Linked DNA regions of Homo sapiens. The protein of the gene in region 2 purifies or fractionates together with the protein of the main gene of each other region. This does not show direct contact. Each region holds a gene or a part of one and is shown on either strand. Other genes may lie near its edges.

Region 1 (3,655 bases), on a different chromosome or scaffold from region 2:
CAGCCTTTCCCAGTATTTATCACTATCTTGTCCCAAGTAAAAATGGGAAAGCCTTCTAGTTTGCTTTCATGTATATATTAATTTGCAGAGATATTTGTCATACTACTTTAATTCTTTCGAAGTGTTATCAACCTTGCACAATAATTTACATTTTAGACAGTTGTCATTTAACCTTGCTTTTCTTGCAGTGCTTGACTTTGTGAATTACCAGCACTCTCACACTTTATAGAAGTTGCTAAGAGTTTTGCTTCTGAGCAACAGGTTCAGATAGATTGTATGTGCCAAAATCTTTGTTAAAAGAGAAGAACCAGTAGATATGCCTACCATTGCTTTTGATTGAAAATAAGCTTTACTAACTTATGTTTGCCACCTGTTGCTAGGTAAATGGCTTTAAGACTAGCTCCACGTTGCTAATGGCAGAGGAAAGCCCTATCAGATGACACTGTGGTTTATTCATACGAGTAATACCTTGATTCATGATAGTGTCTAACATAGCTTCTGTGAAAGAAGTGTTGCTAAATGTCATTTGTTGAATTGGCAAAAAAATTCTACGGTGGTTATTTTTATATATAGATAGTCCTTTTTGGTCACATACTCTTAGAATATATAAGAATATAGTTTAATAGTGTCCAAGAACAGCAGTGAAGGTAGAATCAGTTAAACTGAAAACCAGTTATTACACTGAAAACAAACTAATTGCTAACCTCAACAGGTGCATTTTCAGTGTATCTCAGCGTAATAGGACATACTAGGCGTCCAGGCAGTTGTGCCGGTTCTGTGGGTATAAATGAGCCTTGGTTGTGATCCAAGAGAGCTGTAGAATGCACAGCTGGAGCCTCCCTTTTCCCAAATGCTCTACTCATGCTAAACGTAAAGGGAGAACCACTCAATTGGATCTGTAACTTTTTTTTTTTGAGACAGAGTCTTACTCTGTCACTCAGGCTGGAGTGCCCTGGCACGATCTCGGCTCACTGCAACCTCTGCCTCCTGGTTTCAAGCCATTCTCCTGCCTCAGCCTCCCAGGTAGCTGGGACTACAGGCACGCACCACCACACCTGGCTAATTTTTTTTTTTTTTTTGTATTTTTTAGTAGAGATGGGGTTTTCACCATGTTGACCAGGCTAGTCTCAAACTCCTGACCTCAGGGGACCCACCCTCCTCGGCCTCCCAAAGTGCTGGGATTACAGGCGTGAGCCACAGTGCCCGGCCAGGATCTGTAACTTTTAAAGATACTTTCTATTAATATAAATTCTCAAGAGGCCTTGATGGTAGTTTGAAATGTGTTACTTTAAGTGTGTCTGAGTTTTTTTTTTTTAAACCATAACCCTTTACGGTACAGGAATATCTTTATTTGAGATACCCAGTAATAGAAAAGAATTTTAATCTCCTTTAAGCATGTTAAATAATTGGGAGCTAGGGCCGGGCGTGGTGGCTCATGTCTGTAATCCCAGCACTTTGAGAGGCCCAGGCGGGCAGATCACCTGAGGTCAGGAGTTTGAGACCACCCTGCCCAACATGGTGAAACCCTGTCTCTACTAAAAATAGAAAAATGAGCCGGAAAAAAAAAAAAGAAAGAAAGAAAAATTAGCCGGACATGGCAGCTCCTGTAATCCGGCTACTCGGGAGGCTGAGGCAGGAGAATCGCTTGAACTTGTGAGGCGGAGGTTGCGGTGAGCTGAGATTGCACCACTGCACTCCAGCCTGGTGGGGGAAAAAAGAATTGGGAGCTAGCTAGAAGGAAGCATTGGATAAGAAATAGTTGTTTCAGGCTGGGCACAGTGGCTCATGCCTGTTGTAATCCCAGCACATTGGGAGGTCGAGGTGGGCGGATCACGAGGTCAGGAGTTTGAGACCAGCCTGGCCAAGATGGTGAAACCCTGTCTCTACTAAAAATACAAAAATTAGCCAAGCGCCGTGGTAGTTGGCTGTAATCCCAGCTACTCAGGAGGCTGAGGCAGGAAGATCGCTTGAACCTGGGAGGTGAAGGTTGCAGAGAGCCAAGCTTGCGCCACTGCACTCTAGCCTGGGTGACAGAGCAGGACTCCGTCTCAAAAAAAAAAAAAGAAATAGTTGTTTCAATTCACAGCTTTAGAATTTTGGTAAAAGACCACATGCCAGTAAGTTATCTTTTTGTTGAACTGGTTGTTTAATAGAAGAAAATGTAAACTGCAGAGTGAGAGGATCTGGATCATACTTTGTAGGTTGGTACTTTACAATTTAGGGCATAAAAACAAACCCCAAACCTCTTGGGATGATACCACACAACATTTTTGCACCCCCTATGCTGCCTACTTGGATGTTCTTTCTTGTCTTATAAGCTTGATCACCAAGGAAAGAATGAGTGCCTTAATTTTTCTGAAACCATAGTGGACTTAAATTTTTACACAGAGCCTCTAAGTGGATTCAGAATTAATGGGAAAAATAAATCGGCCTCTTACAGGCTGAAAGCCTCAAAATACATTCCTACAGAAGTTGCCAGTTTGTCTTTTTCAATATGTATAGGATGAAGTTGAGCGTGGCGTAGCATGGATTTTGTTAGCTCTTCTTTGTGAAGAGTAAAGTTATTGTGGAGGGAAGGCCAAGGGAAGAGAGTGTCCTAAATTTACAAAAATGTCCTAAAGGAGAAAGGCTAATAAATTCTTTACAAATTTGGCTTAAGAAGTAGTATTGTTTGTATATGTCATGTCTTCGCTGTGCTTAGTTAGAAGAAGAGGTAGGAATGAGTAAAGATATCGAAATTATAGAAAGGGAAATGGAGAAAGACTGATAATCTATTGGTTGTCAGATTATTTTGGGTGTAAAAGAAGACATTAGGTTGTAACTTTTAACTAAATGCTTAATAGTGTGTTTGTTGCCTTTTCTTTTTAGGTATTGCACTCTCAGTCTCGCCATGTTGAAGTCAGAATGGCCTGTATTCACTATCTTCGAGAGAACAGAGAGAAATTTGAAGCGGTAACTTGTAATTTCAAACATGTAATGGTGTCTTGACTTGGTTTTACATTTTGGCTTTTAGAAGTGTTCTAGTAGAATTTCACAGGCTGGATCTTAATGCGGGTTATGAAAATAACACTTATTAAAAAAACTTCTCTATTGAACTTAATCTAGTTATATTCAGTTATGTTGTTTTCTAGGCTATTTTATGTTTTGCATTTATTTGGACATTTAGAAAGCTACTATGATGGATAAGACGCTGAGCTGTGGGGGATGGAAAGATGACCTGGACAAGGCCCTTGCATACTAAGAGTGGGCTTTGTCTGACATGGTCAGGGAATTGGGGGTGTTGTGATTAATAGTGGTTTCTGTGATGGGTAACTCCCTATAAATTAAAAGAAAAAAAATTCAGTCTGGGCATGGTGGCTCACACCTGTAATCCCAGTACTTTGGGAGGTGAAGAGTTCAAGACCAGCTTGGCCAACATGGCAAAACTCTGTGTCTACTAAAAGTAGTGGCATGGTGGCACATGCCTGAGTCCCAGCTACTCTTGAGTCTGAGGCACGAGGATTGCTCGAACCCAGGAGGCAGAGGTTGCAGTGAGCCGAGTTGCGCCGCTGCACCACAGCCTGGGTGACAGAGTGAGACTCTGTCTCAAAAAAAAAAAAAAAAAAATTCAGACTTGCAGTGTAAAAAATACGCTGAGTGTAAGTAATGCTGAACC
Region 2 (3,655 bases):
AAAGGGAGCATCTCCAGAGGTGTTTTTGACTTCATGTAATAGGAAACCTATCAGTGGCTTAAACAAAAAGTAAGTCTGCAAGTAGGTAGTTATAAGTTTTTGTTCAGAAGTTTCACCTCATGGTCTTCAGATGGCTGCCCCAACTCCAGGCATCATGAGTGCATTCAAGGCAAGAAGGAGGAAGAGTAGCCCAACCACATCTGTCTCATTTATAGGGAACGTAGTCTTCCACTTCCATCTCATTGACAAGAAATCTATCATATGGCCACCTGCAGCTTTAAGAACATCTGAGAATGCAAGAATGTAGCTTTTCCAGCCTCTATAGTGGAGGTGGACAAGAGAGAAGGGATTTGGAGGCAACAGTGCCTGGCACAGCGGGTATGTTTAGAATGAGCCCAGTGCCACTCTGAGCCTCAGTTTCCTCATCTGTAAGGTAGGCAGGGTAAACTCTAAGGTCTCTCTCATGTCTAAGCTCTGTGCTGTGCAAAGTCAATGTAACCCAGGCATCAACTGCCACCTGGGGTGAGGTAATGAGGTGGGGACCTCCCTGAAAAAAGTTCATGACATATGGAGGCCCAAAGCATGACATATGAAAGCCCCCATGTCTGCTGATTTCTAGGAAGCTGCTGGGCTTCTTGGGGCCTTCTCCTGTTCATTGTCCTCACAACCCAAAGATCACCTTTTCAATAAACCCACCCAAAGCATTGCAGAGCTCTGTTGACCTAACCAGAGTTGAAGGAATCAGGGGGCAACCTTTCCCTCCTCCAACCAGCATACACATGGGAGGTTCCCACCTGGTACATCTCTGCCAGGCACAAGGAGGCAGAGGTGATGCAGCCAGGGCCCTGCTCCCTGGGAACCTCAATATATTCATGGAATCACTTGAGCCCTTGAAAGCTGTGTAGGAATCAGAGAAGATAAAGAGGGTTGATTCCAAGCAGATGGCAGGGCAGGAGCAGAGGTGTGGAGGACTAGCATAAATCGACAGGATCATGAATAGACCAGAGCAACAAAATGTTGGCAGCAATGATAGTATCACGAGAAGTAGCATTGACTGAGGACTACCTATGTGTTGGAGGGAGGTTCAGGTGAGGGTCCTAGGAAGCAACTCTGAGATGGAGTTTAACCCACAGGAGACTTATCAGGAGATACCCTCAGGATCAACCCCTGTGCTAGGGAAGGGATGGAAGGAAGCAGGAGTGGGCAGAAGGAGAAGTCGAGCTGTACTGTGGTGCCACGAAAGCCTCAGCTGACTTCAGGAGCCCTGATGACGGGATGACCCTTCGGCACTGTCCTGAGTCGGGGCAAGAGGGCTTATGGGTCAGTCTTGGGTGTAGGCTGCTCTAGGGAGGGGCACGGCCTTGGAAGAGATGGCTGTCTTCTGCTGAGGCAGTCCCTGCAGGAGGCTGAAAGCTGAGGACTTTCTTCCTGCAGCATTCCTGGCAGCCAGGGCAGTGAATCCTTCATCCCCAACAAAAGTCTAGGTAGCACGTCAGTGTTACCAGCAGGAAGGAAAGGCAATGAAGGCCGCTTGGCTAAGCTGTAGGATAGCACGAGGTAGGACAGCTGACTTGGGGCAGAGTCTGTGGGTAGACACCTCTGTAATGCTTCAGGCCCCATGTTTAAAGTCGGTTGTGGTGTCAGATGCCCATGGGGACACTGGGATGCTGTCCATTGATATTTGTTGAGTGAAATGGAAGTAACTGAGTGGGAATGGATAGAGGGGAGTGCAGACATCCCCCAAAGTGGTGGGGTCACCAGCAAGAGGACAAATGCAGACATACACCTGTCTGTCAAGATATTCCTTTCCACAGAAATCTTTAGTAAAAGGTGAACGATTTATACGATCTCAGGAGAAATCAGAGTATGTCTAGATATTTCAGCTAGAAATCAAGCTGAAAATGCAAACTGCAAAACAAAAATAGATTTTATCCTCCTAACTTGACCAAATATGTGCCTTCATCACAACCTTTGGGGCCAGGCTCAAACTGAGAATTTGTGGACACCTCAGAGTCCCTTGCCTGATCGCCGGCCTCTGACCACAGCCTGTGCCCAGCACTTCCTGTCTTCTCTCTTGCAGTCTCAGCTCTATCCACTCAGCCCCACCCTACCAGCCCTCAGGAGAACTGACCCTGCAAAAGGCACTTGGCAGGCCCTGGAAGCTTGCTTGGGCTGTTTGGGTAGGGATTTGGGGCCCTGGGTACATGAAGTGTGGCCTAGGCTGTAGGTGGGCAGGTGCCCTGGCCCTGCAAGCTGCTTGATCTTAGGGAGGGGCATGGAGGAAGGAGAACCAGAGCAGGTGGCTGTGGCTGGGCTCCCTGGGAAGCTGACTCTGAGACAGAGCTAATTTGTTAGGGTGAGCCCTAGGAGCCACACATGTGGGGGCGGGGGGAAGAGGAAGTGGGCAGAGGGAGAGCTGAGCTGCAGTGCAGGCACCAGGCCAGCCTCTGTGACCCAAGGAGATGGGGTGGGTAAAGGCCAGAAATGACTGAGGTGGAGGCCTGGGAAGGGGTGTCAGCTGGGGCTGGGTGCTTCTGTAGCACAAGGGCTGCCTTTTCTCCCAGCCGCGGGAGCACCAAGACCTCCTGAGTGGGGATCTGGATCTGTACATTAGTGGCCACCACAGCCAGGTCCTCAAAGTGCATGAACCATCAGGACCCCTTTTGCCTGGGTCTAAGGGGCTGTCAGGACTGATGGGATAAACGGGATGGGATGGAGGACGGTGGGCTTGGCCTGGGCGGTTGGCTCTTTGCCTGGGGAACAGGGGGACCTTCGGTGACAGCCATTTCTCCCCACTCCCAGTCTGCCTGAAGGGGACCAAGGTGCACATGAAATGCTTTCTGGCCTTCACCCAGACGAAGACCTTCCACGAGGCCAGCGAGGACTGCATCTCGCGCGGGGGCACCCTGGGCACCCCTCAGACTGGCTCGGAGAACGACGCCCTGTATGAGTACCTGCGCCAGAGCGTGGGCAACGAGGCCGAGATCTGGCTGGGCCTCAACGACATGGCGGCCGAGGGCACCTGGGTGGACATGACCGGCGCCCGCATCGCCTACAAGAACTGGGAGACTGAGATCACCGCGCAACCCGATGGCGGCAAGACCGAGAACTGCGCGGTCCTGTCAGGCGCGGCCAACGGCAAGTGGTTCGACAAGCGCTGCCGCGATCAGCTGCCCTACATCTGCCAGTTCGGGATCGTGTAGCCGGCGGGGCGGGGGCCGTGGGGGGCCTGGAGGAGGGCAGGGGCCGCGGGAGGCCGGGAGGAGGGTGGGGACCTTGCAGCCCCCATCCTCTCCGTGCGCTTGGAGCCTCTTTTTGCAAATAAAGTTGGTGCAGCTTCGCGGAGAGGAGAGGCGCTGCAGTCTGTGCTGTGTCCGCGGGGCGGGGAGGAGGTCCCAGGAGCCGGTTCGAAAGCTCCCTCCGTGATGAAGTAGGCGAGAAGGGAGGAGGTGAAGGAGGGCGAGCTGAGCACACGCGCTTCATGCCACAGGAGGGTGGGAATGAGCGGAGGACTGAGGAGAGGAAGGAGGGAAAGAATAGGGAGATGAAAACGCCCCGGTCTGCTGCTAAGCACAGCACAGTTACCAAAGCCAGGAAACTAACACTGACACGATATTTTATTTACGTTACAGCTCTATTCAAAGCTCCAGGCTTC
Region 3 (3,655 bases), on a different chromosome or scaffold from region 2:
TGTGTCTATTTAATGCATAGTTGTGTTCTTATCACATGTGAAATTTGTGTCCTACATTTTTCATCCACCATGATGATGTAAACATTTCCTAACACCTGAAATTTGCTCTCGGTAGGCATCACCCTACTTACTTACAAAGTCATGGTAAGTGTTATCTACTGATGGTCAAAAGATGTTTAAAATGTGTATCTTTATTCAGAAAGTGTTTTTTGGTTGTTTTTGTTTGTTTGTTTGTTTTGTTTTGTTTTTTGAGACGGAGTCTCGCTCTGTCACCCAGGCTGGAGTGCAGTGGCGTGATCTCAGCTCACCGCAACCTCTGCCTCCCGGGTTCAAGAAATTCTCTGCCTCAGCCTCCCGAGTAGCTATGATTACAGGCATCCCCCACCATGCCCAGCTAATTTTTGTATTTTTAGTAGAGATGGGGTTTCACCATCTTGGCCAGGCTGGTCTTGAACTGCTGGCCTTGTGAACCACCTGCCTTGGTCTCCCAAAGTGCTGGGATTACAGGCATGAGCCACCGCACCTGGCCTCAGAAAGTTTTTAGAACATTTGGTTGGTACAGGCCAGAGCACATATGGTCTGTGTAATTAGCCAACTCCTTAGAGCTGCTTGGGGTTTCTGGACTGGCTGAGTTACTGCTTCATATCTTTTAGCTCTTTAGCCTTATTAATGGTTGAATTACATATTAACTTTTCTCATACAGAAAATGTTCATTCTCCCTGAACATGAAGAGCTAGGATAATGATTTTCTTAAAATGAGCAGATAGCAGATGTTGATCTTAAAGTGTTCAAGGATTGAGGCCTTGTTTAAGAGAAAATCAAGCTTCTGGCTGTTTTTCATGACTCTAATTCTAGACATTTATATTTTTATGAAAAAATGTATACCACCTTTTAGAATTTCTACAAGGAAGAAGTTTTATTAATACTCTATTTTGATATACAAATGTCTTGCTTTGGTTGTAGAAGAATGCAAGATGTGTGTGGAGAATCTTTATATATGTAATTCTTTGAAGTTCATCATGGGAAAAAAATCTAGCCGTCTATTCATGTGTTAATTTTTCAGTAGTGTTTTATTATATGGCTTATGTGCTGATTTAAGTGTATAAAACCACATTGCTTATTAGAATATGATAGAATTTTGAATCTATATAATCATATTCTAATTCATGAAAAATCACATGGAGTCAAACTTTTTTTTTTCTTCTAGCCAGATGAATTATACTTTGAGGAAGGTGATATTATCTACATTACTGACATGGTAAGTCCAGATAACATCTTGTAATACCACATATAAAGACTGTTTTATGTAGCTATAACATTGTAAGTTATTTAAATATATATGTACATAGAAATACATATGTACAAGTCTGTTCATTTTAGCACAATTGATAGTAGCATAAGATTGAAAATAGCCCTTATTTCCATCAATAGGGAAAGAGTTGAATAAGCTTTGGTCTAGCCACAAACAGAATATTATGCAGCTGTAGAAAGAAATGGGGAATATCTCTATATGCTATTATGAAGTAATTTAAGTGAAAAAAAAAGCAAAGTGAGAAAATGTAGATAATATATCCTCAGTTTTCTAGGAAAGGGTGAGAGTGTATGTGTACACACACATACATGCAGACACTTGTTTTTCTCAATTTCAGATAAAAAGTTGAAAGATGAGTTGCAAAGTAAAATTTAGTTTTATTCTATGAAGAGTAAAGATCCTTTCTCTAGGTGGAAGGAGAGAAATAGGGTATAATGAACATAGATGGAAGATAGACTTTTTAGAAAATTATACCTTGTTTTGTGGATTTGACTTTGAACTGATGTAAACCTTGACATGGTTAAAAATTGAAGTAAAAAGCAATCCCTAAAAATTAAAAGCAGAATGAATCAAATGAACTTAATTGTACCCTGGTAATTGGCCTAACCACACAGAGAGGAAATATTCCAAGTTTAAAACTCAGCAATTTGACTGAACATCCATAGTAGAATATGGATATGTATGAAAGACATATATATATATATATATATATATATATATATATATATATATATTTTGTCCATATATATATATATTTTGTCCATATATATATATATTTTGTCCATATATATATATATTTTGTCCATATATATATATATATATTTTGTCCATATATATATATATATATTTTGTCCATATATATATATATATATTTTGTCCATATATATATATATATATATATTTTGTCCATATATATATATATATATATATATATTTTGTCCATATATATATATGGACAAAAAGAAATGGCCAAAAAAGGGTAAATTGTTTTAAATCATGCCCTTGTTAGGGAAATGTAGGTATTGCTAATTCTGAGATTGTTGCATGTGTATTGTGGTTTAGAGCAAATGAGTAATTAGGTCGGTGATGTTGCTAACGGATTTTCAGCATAGCAAAAAGGATACACAGATGTAAGATTAATGACAGTTTAAGAAAAACTCTGTATTCCTTCATCTGAATTGCAAGGATCACATTGTATTTTATCTAAAATAAAACAAAAATATTCCCTGCTGTGTTCTTTGAAAGGGCCTAGGAAAAATGACCAACCCAATAATAATATGTTATTTTCCATTGAAATGTACAGGCTTCTTTGAGAAATGGCTGGTACCAAGTCAGGGGCAGCAGAGGTACAAGATAAACCCAGAACATCCTCTTATTAGAAAACATGGAAGCTCCTAAAGACAGTAGGGTCACACTGAAAGGACTTGGGAACGAACTTGAAGAGACTCCCACTGGCCAAAGATAGGACAATTTGAGCATCAATTAGGGCAACAACTTCCAAGAATTGAAACCCATTAAATACATTTAAATTTATGAGTTTCTAATGTTACTTCTGAGGAAATCTCATTGGTCAGCATGAGAGAATGCTAGGAAATCAGGTTTTTATTCTGACAACTGTTAAGGGAAAGAATCACCATTTATTCTGTGTTTTCTTTATGAATTTCTTACCTGGGCAATCTGAGAGCTGATGAGGAAGTTTTTGTTTAAAGAGGTATTCAGGTTATTTCAATGAAGAAGGAATGATAGAATTAGAATGTCACCATCTTGCAGCCTCTAGGAAATAGTGGATCTAGACAATGATCATCAAGGGCTACTAACATTACAAAAAGAAGCCGACTAGATAGTTTGCATTTCCTAATGGAAGAAATCAATACTGCCTAGGAAATAGCCTTGCCAAAAAAAATTGGAGCTGAATCTAATTAAACCTCTAGAACTGATGACCAATTTATAGGCAATACAGGGAACAGAGGAACATGCTTAATGATAACACAGGGATACAACAGGCAAAATCCATAGAGGTTGACACTACAGAACAAACCAACTGGATTCTTCAACAAATACATTGTAAGAGATAAAAAAGAATGGAGAGACAACCTATAGATTAAAAGATACTTAAAGACAAATCAATCATATTGTATAGCCCTTATTTGAGTCCCAAATTATGGGGCAGTTGGGAAATTTGAGTATCGACCTAGATATTTGATGATATTAAGGAATTATTGTTGGAAAAAACTTTTAAGCTGTGATAATGGCATTATAATTGCCTTTCAAAAAGTATGTGTCTTTCAGAGATACGTACTGAAATATTTACAAATGAAATAATATGATGTCTAGAATTTATTT

The links.
Region 1: the proteins of CLEC3B (region 2) and OTUD4 purify together in Homo sapiens (affinity purification with mass spectrometry; one large-scale study listed by BioGRID and IntAct). This does not show direct contact.
Region 3: the proteins of CLEC3B (region 2) and OSTF1 purify together in Homo sapiens (affinity purification with mass spectrometry; one large-scale study listed by BioGRID and IntAct). This does not show direct contact.

The regions. Positions count from the first base shown.
Region 1 is NC_000004.12:145,173,958-145,177,612, reverse strand, and holds part of OTUD4 (OTU domain-containing protein 4), read left to right. Parts: intron 1-2,868; coding exon 2,869-2,952; coding exon of another isoform or gene 2,953-2,973; intron 2,974-3,655.
Region 2 is NC_000003.12:45,032,722-45,036,376, forward strand, and holds the end of CLEC3B (tetranectin), read left to right. Parts: intron 1-2,802; coding exon 2,803-3,203; 3' UTR 3,204-3,350; downstream 3,351-3,655. UniProt on the Homo sapiens protein: Tetranectin binds to plasminogen and to isolated kringle 4. May be involved in the packaging of molecules destined for exocytosis. Plays a role in retinal function.
Region 3 is NC_000009.12:75,126,362-75,130,016, forward strand, and holds part of OSTF1 (osteoclast-stimulating factor 1), read left to right. Parts: intron 1-115; exon of another isoform or gene 116-141; coding exon of another isoform or gene 142-144; intron 145-1,207; coding exon 1,208-1,258; intron 1,259-3,655.